2 separate regions of the Homo sapiens genome follow, and region 2 is linked to region 1. Evidence: fine-mapped QTL for protein levels in blood plasma. A gene starts in region 1. The other region holds a variant in brackets. All regions are shown on one strand. Distances are between the middles of the regions.

Evidence for each region. A credible set is the group of variants that fine-mapping cannot tell apart. PIP is the posterior inclusion probability: the model's chance that the variant is causal. Sun 2018 read protein levels with aptamers (SomaScan).
Region 2: its variant is the best candidate, but not a certain one, in a credible set for the plasma level of the C1QC protein (Sun 2018, PIP 0.87).

Annotation. Positions count from the first base shown.
Region 1 is chr1:22,642,225-22,645,088 of GRCh38, forward strand. It overlaps C1QC (complement C1q C chain), which reads left to right and starts at 1,409. Exons shown (of 3, transcript NM_172369.5): 1 at 1,409-1,490; 2 at 1,787-1,980. The coding sequence starts at 1,800.
Region 2 is chr1:22,623,545-22,626,452 of GRCh38, forward strand. No RefSeq gene overlaps it. Among named protein-coding and RNA genes, the nearest start is that of MIR6127, 8.4 kb to the right of the region's middle. The variant C/T (reference allele first, on the strand shown) is at 1,764.

The DNA.
Region 1 (2,864 bases):
CCAGGCGCAGAGGAGGTGAAGAGGGAGGAGAGGAGCCCAGAGCCGTTAGGCTGGGTGGCCCCCAGCCCCATAATGCAGTATCCATCATTTCTTCTCGGCCCAGGCTTCCACCCACCAGGGACTCCTAGGGCCAAGTGGGTTCATGCCCCTTAACTCACCCCACACTCTCTGCAGTCCCATGGCACGTGGTGGAGACACAGAAGGGGAGACTGAGACCCTGAGGGTTCCTCAGTGAGGCAGGGGAAGAGCTCTGAACACCTGCCCATACCTGGCACGGGACAAGGCATCACACGTGTGTTGTGCACTGAATCCCAGCCACTGGCCTGGAGCTGTAAGAAGCCTCCATGTTACAGAGGGGGAACCAATGGACACAGGTGGCAGGTGTGGGGTCGAGGCTGGAGCCCTGCTACTGCCTGACAGCCCCTTCATCCCTAGAATCTCATGTGAGGAGAAGAGGGAGAGGGGAGAAGGCCTCTCAGCTCTGCCAGCCTGGTCCTGATGGGGAGCCCCTCACCAGCCATGGTGGGCTCCAAGCCCAGAGGCAGGGCACCCCCAGGATGCAGGCAAGGAGGGTGGTGTTGGCAGGGAAGATGGAACCGTCAGGGAAGACCAGGTGCCCCAACGAAGGAAGAGGCACCAATACTGAAAGCCAAGGCCACCCCAGTAGACAGAAGGGAGGCCAGAGGGACCAGTGATTTGCTGAAGGCATCTGGTCCATGCAGTGACAGGGCTGGAAGGAGAAGCCAGGGCCCTGGCTCTGTAGCCAGGGCAGCCCGTGCACCACAACAGCTGCCTGCCGCCAAAGCGGGTCCATCCTGGGGGTCCACCTCCAAGTGTGGCCACTGGGATGGGGCACATGGAAGTTTCTAGAACAAGGCTTGCAACTTGACAAGTGCATGTGAGGCTTGTTTCTGGGGGCAGCTGAGCAGAGGGGTCAGAGCAAGGCTTTGGGCCCCAAGAGACCACTCAGTGTGTGACTTTGGGCAACGGTGTACATCCTCCTGAGCCTGTTTCCTTATCTGTAAAGGGGGATAATAACTTCCTCCTAGGGATTCTGGGAAAACTGAGTCTCAGGCAAAGCAAATGCTAACATTGGTCATTAGATGGGATGAACCTGACTCTGGGGGACGTCTGTGCCCTGGGGGCTTGTGTTTATACACACACACACACACACACACACACACACACCCTCAGCCAGATGCTGGGGCAGGGGACAGTTCCTCATTTCGGACACTGACTGCCGGTGGGGGGATGTGGATGGGGTATTGCTGTGGTCAGTCTGGCTCAGCACCCAAAAGAAAGTGTCAAGTCAGGGAAAATTCTGGGAAAGGGGATGTGGGATTGGGGGAGGGCACGAGAAGGGGAGGGGGCCCAGCCCTGCTTTGGGCAATCCTTGCTCTGACCACTCAGACACCGTGTCCTCTTGCCTGGGAGAGGGGAAGCAGATCTGAGGACATCTCTGTGCCAGGCCAGAAACCGCCCACCTGCAGGTGAGGCCCGGACCCCTGCCCAGGTATGGGCAGATGGCCGTTTCCTCCACCTTCCGCCACCTTCCTGAAATGTGGTGCCAGGGGCAGCTTGGTGTGTGAGGGGAAGGAGGGTTCCCACTCCTGCTGGGCCCCGGGGCCTGGGCTGAAGAAAAGGCCCCACCATCCATCCATGGTGAGGCTCCTGGGGGAGGAAGGAAGGCGAGCTCCCGAGGGCTGAGGAGGACGGGCCCTGGGGAATGAGAGGGTTGGGGGCAGGTGAGGGGCTGGCGGGGACAGCTCAGCTCTCTCCCTCCCAGTTCCTTCTCCGGGATGGACGTGGGGCCCAGCTCCCTGCCCCACCTTGGGCTGAAGCTGCTGCTGCTCCTGCTGCTGCTGCCCCTCAGGGGCCAAGCCAACACAGGCTGCTACGGGATCCCAGGGATGCCCGGCCTGCCCGGGGCACCAGGGAAGGATGGGTACGACGGACTGCCGGGGCCCAAGGGGGAGCCAGGTGAGTCTGCTGGCCTGGTTTGGGGGTTTGGGTCTGGGGCAGGGATCAGAGTGTCTGTCTGGGGCTGACCAAGGGGGCGGGGGACAGCAGGAAGTGCTTGCCTTGCTGCCACGCCTGCCCCAGGGCAGAGGTGGACTCTCACGGTGTGTCTGGCTCCTCTATCCTCAGAGCCCAGGCTTCAGGCCACCCCAGAGGTGACCTTGGGCCCAGCGCACTTCCATCTTCCTTCTCCTCCTTACCCGATTATAGGGAGGGAATAAGAGCGCCTGCCCCCAAAGGTGGCCAGGAGGCTCACAGGAGACAGTGCAGGGAAAGTCTTCTTGCCCTGCAACATGGGCACCTGGGGAAGCTGGGGCCCACACAGTGAATATATCCAATGCACGACTGCCAGGGTTCAAATCCCAGCCCCTACTGATTCCCTCTATGTGAACCCGCACAAGTTACTTAACCTCGCAGTGCCTCAGTTTCCTCATCTGTAAAACGAGGAGATGGTAGCACCTGCTTCACAAGGTTGCTGTGAGGATTAAGTTAACTTAAATATAAAACAGCCCTGAGCACCTGGGAGGTCTATACAGGTGTAGGCTATTTTATCATTGGTTTTATCAGATATCCATGCTCACCTCCCTCCTTAGGATTCTGGATAGTTGGAGGGGTGGGGAGTAGGAGGTCAGGATCGCAGCCAGAGAAACTTCTGTTGGAGGTCCACAGGCAATCCTTGGCATAAGAGAAGGGGGCTGAGGCTATGAATGGGTGACTGGGGCTGGAACTGGAGCCCTGGGGGGTATGAGTGCCTTGTCTGTGAGTGAGCTGGGCACGTCTCAGATGCTAGGCATGCCTGGAGCCGGCCTGGGGTGACACTGAGCGGAGGTGATGGGGTGACAGAG
Region 2 (2,908 bases), 19 kb before region 1:
AACACTAGTCTAAGGTTTAAAATAATCAGAGACAGAGGCCGAGTGCGGTGGTTCATGCCTGTAATCCCAGCACTTTGGGAGGCAGAAGCAGGCAGATCACCTGAGGTCAGGAGTTCGAGACCAGCCTGGCCAACATGGTAAAACCCCGTCTCTACTACTACTACTACTACTACTACTACTACTACTACTACTACTAATAATAATAATAATAATAATAATCAGAGACCTAAGTGAGGGACAGACAGAGGGTGGGGGCTAGAGGTAGGACACAGTACAAGGAAAGTAGAGAAGGCTATGGGTGTGGGCGGGGGACATTCAAGATGAGTCTTGATGAGCGAGTGGCTTTGGATGATGGAGATGCTGGGGAAAGACACACCAGGCAGGGAAAGCAAAGGCACAGAGCTCAGGGGGAAGCAAGGCGGCCAGTGGGTGATGGGCTGGGTGGGCCCTGGTTCCTGGATCATGGGCAGTTTGGGACCTGTGGATCCTGGCAAAGCTCTTGGGGAGTGGCGCCCATGGAGGTCTCAGGAAGGTGGTGACTTTGTACACCTGTGTTCATTGCAGCATTATTCACAATGGCCAAATGTGGCAATAACCCAACTGTCCATCACTGGATGGATGGATAAATAAAACACGGTCTGTCCATACAATGAAATATTAGTCAGCTTTATAAAGGAATGATATTCTGATCTATGCTATAATACGGATGAGCCTTGAGGGCGTTATCCTAAGTGAAAAAAGCCAGTCACAAAAGGATGCATAATTTCACTTACACAAAGTACCGTCAGGCACAGTGGCTCACGTCTGTAATCCCAACACTTTGGGAGGCCGAGGCGGGCGGATCACTTGAGGTCGGGAGTTCGAGACCAGGCTGGCCAACATGGTGAAACACCGTCTCTACCAAAAATATAAAAAATTAGCTGTGTGTGGTGGCTTGCGCCTGTAATCCCAGCTACTGAGACTGAGGCAGGAGAATCGCTTGAACTTGGGAGGTGGAGGTTGCAGTGAGCCGAGATCGTGCCACTGCACAAGGTCAAAGAAAAACAAAGTGCCTAGAATAGTCAAATTCACAGAGGCACAGAATGAGATGGTGGCTGTCAGGGTGGTTGGGGCTTATGGTTTAATGGGTATAGAGTTTCAGTATGAAATGGTAACAGTTCTGGAGATGGACGGTGGTGATGGTCGCATAACAATGTTCTTGCACGGTGACAAAGAGCATTGCTGCATACCAATGGTCGCATGAATGTTCTTCATGCCACTGAAATGCACCCTTAAAATGGTTAAAATGGTAAATTTTATGGTATGTATATTTTATCACAATAAAAAAATAGTGGGGTCTCAAAGGGTCAGGCTGGGGGTTCGAGACATGGAAAGAGTGGGAGATACGGCCAGGCTAGAATAAGCAGGTGAGATCCAAGGTCTGAGGGCACAAATGCTAACCCCAAGCAGCACAGTGAACGTAGGCTCAGAGCCAGACAGGCCCGGCTTCCAGTCCACGCTCAGCCAGCTCTTAACTGTGTGGTTTTAGGCCAGTCACTTGCCCTTTCTGAGCCTCAGTTTTCTCATCTGTGCAACAGTGATAACGCTAGTTATTTCTATTCTCTCACAGGGTTGTTGCAAAGGCCAAACAAGGTCATAAGAACAACTGTTTACTGCACGTTACTGCATGCCAGGCACTGAGTAAAGCACCTCACACATACTAATCCACTCAGTCATTGCAATATCCCATGAAGATGTACTTTTACTGTCCTATTTCACAGATG[C/T]GAAAACTAAGGCTTTAGGAAGGAAGATTCCACTGTGCGCCCCAAGGCTACACAGTGGGAAGAAGAGGAGTTGGGACTCAGACCTGAATTGTGAGAGGAGCCTATGAGCAACAAGGTGAGTCACTGCTGCCACCTCCTGCCTCCTCCTCTGAGAAGTCTCCCAAGATTGCTGCACTGGGGTGACTCTTGTCTTACCCACTGCTTGTTTCTGGGTGTCTCTGGGGCCCCATGGCCTGCTCAGTCCTGGAGTTATTCCTATGTCTGCCTCTGCAGCAGCATGCAAGCTCTCCAAAGGTACATCTGGATGTTTTTCATTTTAGATTCCTGGGTGCCCAGCCCAATGGCACAGAACCGATGAAAGTCTGGGCAACGTTGGAGTGCTCAGGCTGAGGACAGGACCCCGGACAGCTCCACTGGGACCCGTTAGGGATGGTGTTGCTAGAAGGGTTCTATGAGGATGTTGTCAGAGACAACGACAGCCCTGACAAGGTAAAGGGAGGAGGGGAGGGTGATGAAGACTATGAGGACAACAATGTTCATGTAATAATCATTCTCTAGTGGGTTCATCCTCTGCTGTATCCGTCAAGAGAAGCTCGGTTATGCTGCAGTAACAACTGTATCACAGGGGCTTAACACCACAAAGCCTTACTCTCCACTCCTGCAAAGCCTGTCGTGGGTCTGGGTGTCTCTCCAGAGCAGTTGTCCCTCATGCAGAACCTCAGCAAGCCAGGCCACTTGAATGCCGTGGCTCCACCCACGGCAGTGCAAGGACTCCATGACCTCTGCAGCAGAGCAAGAGCACGGTGACAAAGACCAAGGTCACCCAGGTGAGGACAGTGGTATTCAGATTCAGAGCCACTTCTCTGAGCCCCATACCTATTTTTCCCTCTGCCATCCCCACAGTGTCCCATGGAAGGGCTGCAGGTGTGCTGGAGACCCTCAAGGTGAGCCCCACCCCTACTCCTATTCTGACCTCCCAACCCCCCTAAACCTAAAGGCCCAAGCCCCTGCAGCCGGGCCATATTCCCAGAGCCTGTCCCTGGAAGCAGCAGCGCTTCCTACTCTGACAGCTTTTTGCAGGAGCAGGAGGGGTTCATTTGCATACTATAGGCTCATTTGCATACTACTTAGGAAACGCCTTCGCT